Homo sapiens: one gene and its partner. The protein of the gene in region 1 interacts with the protein of each later gene in a pairwise test. Each region holds a gene or a part of one and is shown on either strand. Other genes may lie near its edges.

The links.
Region 2: the proteins of TESC (region 1) and DYNLT3 interact in a two-hybrid assay, tested with the Homo sapiens proteins (one large-scale study listed by BioGRID and IntAct).

The regions. Positions count from the first base shown.
Region 1 is NC_000012.12:117,050,700-117,054,518, reverse strand, and holds part of TESC (calcineurin B homologous protein 3), read left to right. Parts: intron 1-3,819. UniProt on the Homo sapiens protein: Functions as an integral cofactor in cell pH regulation by controlling plasma membrane-type Na(+)/H(+) exchange activity. Promotes the maturation, transport, cell surface stability and exchange activity of SLC9A1/NHE1 at the plasma membrane.
Region 2 is NC_000023.11:37,841,394-37,844,830, forward strand, and holds part of DYNLT3 (dynein light chain Tctex-type 3), read right to left. Parts: intron 513-3,437; coding exon 389-512; intron 1-388. UniProt on the Homo sapiens protein: Acts as one of several non-catalytic accessory components of the cytoplasmic dynein 1 complex that are thought to be involved in linking dynein to cargos and to adapter proteins that regulate dynein function.

The DNA of each region.
Region 1 (3,819 bases):
CAGGCGATGGGAACTGTGTGTGCAAAGGCCCTGTGGCACAGGGAGCTTGGGGAGCTGAGAGGCAGACCCAGCTGGACCAGAGAGAGGCCAGTGTGGTGTGGGGAGGGCAGGCTGCATCGGACAGCATCTGTGGACCAGCAGCAGCAGGGGTCTTCAGGAGCCAAGATGGGGGACGCTGACGGACTTTAAGGTGAGGGTGTGAGGGGGTGGGTGAGCCAGGTTTGCACTTTGCAGAGGGTGCTGTGACTGCTGGTTGGTTGTAGGGGTGGGAATGGGAGGTGGAGGCCAGGGAGGAGTGAATCATGGTCCCGGGCTTGGGTCAGGGGTGCCCCGAGGATCTGGGGAGCAGGGGGCAGCTCTGAGCCACCTGGGAGGTTATAGATGAGGAAGGGTTGGATCCGGGAGTTGGGGTGAGAGACCTGGTACCGCAGGAATCTTCACAGCCAGTTGTCATGTGTGCCAAAGAGGAGGGGCCTGTGGAGCTTAAGTGACTGTGAAGTGTGTGAAGTTGCACAGTCAGTGGCAAAGACAGAGTGGAATCCGGTGCCCTCACCTCCTTTTAAATCCTGGTTCTCAGAGAAAGGACTCAGGTGGGCAGTGCGTCTTAGGCCAGTCCCCAGATGAGCCAGAGCAGGCATCAGGGTGGGAGGCGTGCGGCCCCTGACAGGGCACCTAGAGTTGGAGGCACTGACAGGAAGATGGTACAGGGGACCAGAGCCCAGGGGGTGCCTGTGGGTGCGTGCGTGTGTGTATGTGTATGTGTGTGTGCGCGTGCGCGCGCACGCGAGAGAGGGAGCATGTGTGCACGTTTAGGGGGTGTGTGTAGGCACGAGGCTTGTTTCCAGAAGGCTTGGGTGCAACTTTGGCCAGTTGTAAAGTTGGAAGAGGGAACTTCTAGGGTGGATGAGATGAGAGGTGGATTTCACAAGGGCATATGTTCGTCCAAACACAAGATCTGTGCATTTTAGTGTATGCTCTTATTCCTTAAAAAAAAACTTGACCCAAGGTCACTTGGCTGTCAGTTGTCACTTGTAGGAACTGGGATTCCAACTCGGGTCTGTCTGCCTCACGATCCTGGACAGACCCAGGAGTTGTGTTTTCGGCTCTTGGGGTGGAATGCACACACCTGCCAGGCTGTTTTCCATGAACAGCCGAGCTCCAGGAGACAGGGTGTGGGGAAAGGGCTGGGGCAGATGCCTCTCTGTTTTCAGAAGACAAGAGGGTGCACTGGGTATGCCGCTGCCAGACTTAGGGACAGGCAGACGGAGGCAGTAGCCTCCTCCTCCTTTGGAGGGTCTGATTTAGGCCAGAGCTGTGGGAGGACTGGCACAGGCGTGGTGCTCCCTGAAGGAGGGGGCAGGGACCTCAGTCATTGGGGAATGTCGGGTGTCCAGAAGTTGGACGTTGAAACAAGTGACCACATCTCAGGGGGACTCCAGGCGCGACGGGCCTGTGGGGACCCTGAGGAGGGAGCTAGGCAGGAAGGGGCGGTGAGGTCTGGGCTGGTGTGGGTGGCTGAGACCACCCTGCAGGCCTGGGAGACCAGGTGGGATTGGGGATTACCAGGAGAACTGGGGAGGCCCCAGGAGGGTGCTGAGCAGGGGAACAACAGGCTCTGATTTGCATTTTGCAAAGCTCATTCCGGCTGCACTTGGAGTGCGTGAGAAGGTGGGGGCTGGGCCAGGCAGCTGCAGAGGCCAGGAGAGAAAAGGAAGGTTCCCAGGGCACTGACTAGAGGTGTGAGCCTGGGGGTGGGTTGGGTGTGGGGGGGCATCCAGGAGACTCCGGGTCTGGAGCTGAGGGCAGCTGTCATTGTCCCTGCCTGACAGAGCTGTCGTTGAAAGATGGTCAGGGATCTCCTGGGCTGAGCTAGAAGTGGAGGGCGGTGGCCAGGTATGGGGTGGTGAGAGCCTCCCCTATAGGTCCCTGGACCTCGGCCTCTGGCTGCTTCTTAGAGAAACCTGGTGTGGAGAAAGGAAGGTGCCAGTGACTAAGGCTGGCCCAGAAGTCACTGAGGGAGGGGATGATTTTAAAAAGGGTTTCCTCTGGCCTGCACCCAGAACAACTTCGTGGGCTACAGCTGGGAGCCTGTAACTATTGGAAAAGGGCTTCACATCACATCCTGTAAATGCTGAGAAGAAGCTGGAGGAGGATTTCAGAGGAGATGCTGGAAACAGGATTTTCCTTTCAAGAAATACCAGCCTCAGCCTTTGTTCCTAAGACTCTTTGGGAACAGGTCTTGGGGAAGGGGTATTTTGAGCAGAGGCCATCCCCACCTCCAGGGCGCCCCATTCCTTACAGAAGAATTGGAAAGTTAAGGGGGCATCTTTGCAAAAAGAGTGAAAATGGCCTGCCCTCATGCTGGGTTGCAGATTTAGATGTAGCCCCTGTTTTCTGTCCACTGATCTTCATCCTGGTGCTCATTTTAGAAATGGGAGTTAGAGGGCTGGGTGTGGTGGCACGCACCTGTAATCCCAGCTACTCCAGGAGGCTAAGGCAGTAGGATTGCGTATGGCCAGGGTTCAAGACCAGTCTGGGCAATATAGCGAGATCTCATCTCTTAAAAAATAAATAAATAAATAAACTTTTATTTAAAAAATGGAGTGGAGAGCAAGTGGGGCTGGTTCCAGGTGCTCTGTCTGGGTTTCTTTGGCACTGGCTGTCATTGCCTTTGGAGACCAGAATGTTGGTCTCTTCAGACCTGCGGGAGCACTCGGAGGGGAAGGGACCCTCCTTCCTTGAGTTGGGTCCTGAGGCTGAAGCAGTGCCGGTCACAAGGTTCCCAGAGAAGGACACACACCTGCCTTCCCCAGGGGTCTATCACATTTTCACCCATGCTAATCTTAATCCCTCTTGCTGCAGCCTAAACCACTTGGGAAGGACGTGTGAGCCAGTCGCTGTGGGAAGGGCTTTCAGAGCAGCCCGATAAGTCCGGGGGCTATTTTTATGCTCTGTAAATTTGGTCTCTGCCGCCCACAGTGAGAACTTTGAGGTTATTAAAGCCTGTGGCAGGAGCGGTGGGGAGCTTCATACGATAAAAGAGAGAAGAGAGACCTGTGAAAACACATAAAGATGGGGCTTCCTGAGCCCAGGGAAGGACAGATCTCATCCCGCAGATGGGCAGTTTCTTGATCCGCCTTCCCTAATCCAGACTTGGGACCCCACCTCTCCCTGGAAAATCTCCTGGAAGAGAAAAATAAAAAAGTGGGAGTTCCCAGGACACTTAGAGGCTGTCGTATGGGTGTTAGTGTATTTGCTGGGTGCTGAAAAGGAGTAGTAGATGAACCTCTAAAGAGAGAATTGCAAACATATTCCTTTACATGGAGGTGCAGTCGTGCCCTGGGTGGGACCCAAGTAACATATCCAAGCACTAACCACTAACTGTTAGCCACCCCGGGCCAGCTAGGCACTGCCCCTTCCGAAGGGCCACAGTGAGAGGCTGTGGCAGAAACTTGAGCTTGCCAGCCATATGACAGCCTGCCCCAGCAGCCTCGGGCGCTCATGGTCACAGTCCAGTAGAGATAAGGGTTTGACGACAGTGGGTCAGGAGCTTGGGTTTGGAGTCATCTCCAGGCTGTTTTGTTTCTTTCGTTTGAGACAGGGTCTTACTTAGCCACCCAGGCTGGAGTGCAGTGGCGTGATCTTGGCTCACTGCAGCCTCGGCCTCCTGGGCTCAAGTGATCCTCCCACCTCAGCCCCCTAAGTAGCTGGGACTACAGGTGCACACCACCGCACCCATCTAATTTTTTGTAGAGACAGGGTTTCTCCCTGTTGCCCAGGGTGGTCTTGAACTCCAGAGCCCAAGCAATTGGCCTGCCT
Region 2 (3,437 bases), on another chromosome or scaffold:
TTGTACCATGGGCAGAATTCAGACACAGAAATGCAGGAAATACTCCACTTTATAAACAGTTGCTGTGTGGAATTACAGGTAAAGAGGCATGGGACTACCGAAAGAAACACAGTTGAGCTAAGGGGGGGTCTCAGTGGAAAGAAAGAACTGATGGAAATGCAAAGGGTGATGCTACCAAAGAAAAGTAGCTCAAACTGCCTTTGAGTAGTGAAAGATCTTCATCTTTTAAGTATTATTATAGATTATCTTTGAATGAGTAAATCAGAAGTCCTTTATACCCTTTTAGTATCCAACTTAAATGTCTATTGTACATATACCTTCTCAAAATTCAGAGAAAATCACAATGACAAAAGCAAGTGAACTAGTGAGGAAGGATACTGATACTTACCAATATATTTATAGGCTTTTCCCAACTTAACCAGGTGTGTTAAGGATTGTTCCACTATGCTTGCAGTCCACTGGTTGATGTTGTTGTGATTATAATCTTCACCACCTAAAACCCCATCTACACACTAAAAGGGCACAGAGGGCAGTTAATTTAGTCAGTAAAATTGTTCAAAAAGAACAATTTTTACACAAATTGCAGTAAAAATTTATTCAAAACATAAAATATACTTATAGCTCAATAAGGCATCTTAGAAAATATACACTTGGTAAACATTGATTATGCACTGTCTCTAATTGCTTAAGAGTTTTGAAAGAGTTTCCACTTGCATTATCTCACTCTATGAGATACTATGGGCCATATAAAGATAAATATGTCATGGCTTCTGTGTAAATAACTTAATCTAGCAGAGAAGCTAATAAAAAAATTCGAATATCTATAACACAAGGAAGACTAATGATAAATTATGTCATAAAAATTATGGTGGGGAAATTAAAAGGTGCTATCAATTGGTTAACAAGTAGCTTTGAAACAGCTGGGATTTGAACTAGGGCTCACATGCTAGAAACAGGATGGGACTAATTTAAAAACATAATTCTTATGTATACTAATTATATTCTCATTCATACTATGTGATTGTTTAGCTATGAAACAACAACTGATTATATTCTCATTCATACTATGTGATTGTTTAGCTATGAAACAACTAGCACACTTGCCACTGAAAGTAAATAAAGATGCTCTAGAAAGATAAAGTCAAATATCATAATTTCCCATAGTGCTTGATTTCATCCACTTCTGACACCTGATTAAAAGCACTGGCTCTAGTATCACAATCCTAGGTTTTAAGGCCTACTTTGACACCTATCTGCTATGTGACCTTTAGCAAGTGACTTAACCCCTTCAAATCCCTATTTTCCTAATCCTTATAGTAAGGATAACAGCATCATCTTATCAGGTTGTTGTTAGGATGAAATGAGACAATGAATACCAAGTGCTCAAACAGGACTAGCACAGAGTTAGCATATAAATAATGTTAACTACTATTATCATATTGCTGCTGTTATATTTTATATTTGAGTGATAAAGCCTGGATAATAAAGCACTCATTTAATTCATTTTTAGAATCTAACACACACATGCAGCTTCATTTACTATCATTAGACTCATTTAATTCATTTTTAGAATCTAGCTTAATAATACACACATACACACACATGCAGCTTTATTTACTATAATTAGACCACAGTAAAGATTTATGAAGGCACTAATACAAAATCTTAAGTTGGATAGTATAAAATCTTCACTAATGATAAAATATGAAAAGAGAAATGAAATATTTTAGCAAGGTTGACAAAAGTAATATGGCTCAAATTTTTCTCCTAGAAAGCTCAATAACATGACAAAGTAGGAAGGGTAGTGGCTTAAGGATCAGGGGAATAGAATTTTAATTCTGGCTTTACCATTCCTAAGCTGGTGACCTTTGGACAAACCTATTCCTCTCTTGAGATCACCTTTCCTTAAGGATAAAGTAAGAGCACTCATTTTTCTTTCAGGTTATTTAGTAGGACCACTCCAAGTTTTGCTCTAAACAGCAGAAAACACCATGGGGTGTGGGTGCCACTGTAAATAGCCCTGCTAATTACTATTAATTAACATCTAGCCTAATTAATTACATTAACATGGAGGCCCATGAGACAATGAGGTCCTTAAACAGCTCTGTATTCTCAGTGCTAAACTCAGGACCTGGGCACTTAGCAGGTATTCAACAAATGTTGTTGAAGCAATATTGGTTTTGATATACTCGCTGGGTATCTTAAATCAAATACACTTTAGACTAAATTCTAAGTCATTTGTAGCTCACTTTTTCTTCGACGATTTTTTGGGGAAGCAATTTCTATTACTAACACTAAAGAAAATGTATGCATATTACTGATAAATGGGTGTCTCTGAGTTCAGAAGGAAAAACATATTAGCATAGGGGCTCAGAGCAAGAAATCAAAGGAAAGAAAATAAGATCAATAAGAAAATAAGATCAGTAAGGAAATCAGAAATAACTGCTGAAATTATGTAATCATCTAGGAAGTGCTAAACTGTTTTAAAATGTTGCTCATTCTCAGGCATTTCCAATGTCTCAATGGAAATGTTTCAATGGCAGAAGAGGGTTGGTTCATGGGAAGAGGAAAGATAGACATTTAGCTGCAAGTAACCTGTAGCAAAGCTGAGTTTCTTTGCAGTCTCATATTTCATATAAAAATTCAAGAGAAGCTTGTTTTGACTACATAATGCATCAGAGTTTGTTTTTATTCAAAAATGTTTTCAGTTATATTATTTATATTACTTAACTCCCTCTCACAAATATTCAAGAAAAACTGATGTTCTAAAATGCATCCAGTGACTTCTAGCACCACCTAGCCACTGCCGAGTATGTATTTCCCAGTTGAAAAAGCATGATTCTTTTAATTTGATATAATATTAAAGTAACAGGCATATGGTTTGAAAAATCCAGTAGAACAGAAAAGCTTAGAATGAAGAGTTTCCTTCCCACCCTTTCCTTTCCCATCCCCAGTCCCATTCCCCAGAGGAAACTCATCAGTGTACAACTGTTTTTATTTCTTCCAAGGGTTACTTATGTATCTCCAAATAATGTTTATCTCACTATTTCCTGATTTATGAATTATAGGCAACATCCATGTAACTCCTACTATGATAGATGAAAATTTGGTTCCCTCAGACCACCCGCCCCCTTCTCTCAATATAGTGAAATCACGATTTTTTAACTTAAATATATTTACACTGTTAGAAACATGTTTCTTTTCCACTCTGGATGTTTTCTTCAACGCAGAGGATTGTTCTTTAACATTCCTGGCCTCTTGTCCTGTCAGTTATTCCTCCCCATGGAGGTGGAATGAGTTACCTGGTTGGTGGGTGATAACCATTGTTCTAACATCTCATTTGGGAGTCTCCCAAATGTGTTGAACTTGGGCTTTAGTTTCTCCTTCCCTCTCCACCCAAACCAATGAAAGGCACCAGCCTGAACAAGTGTTTCTCT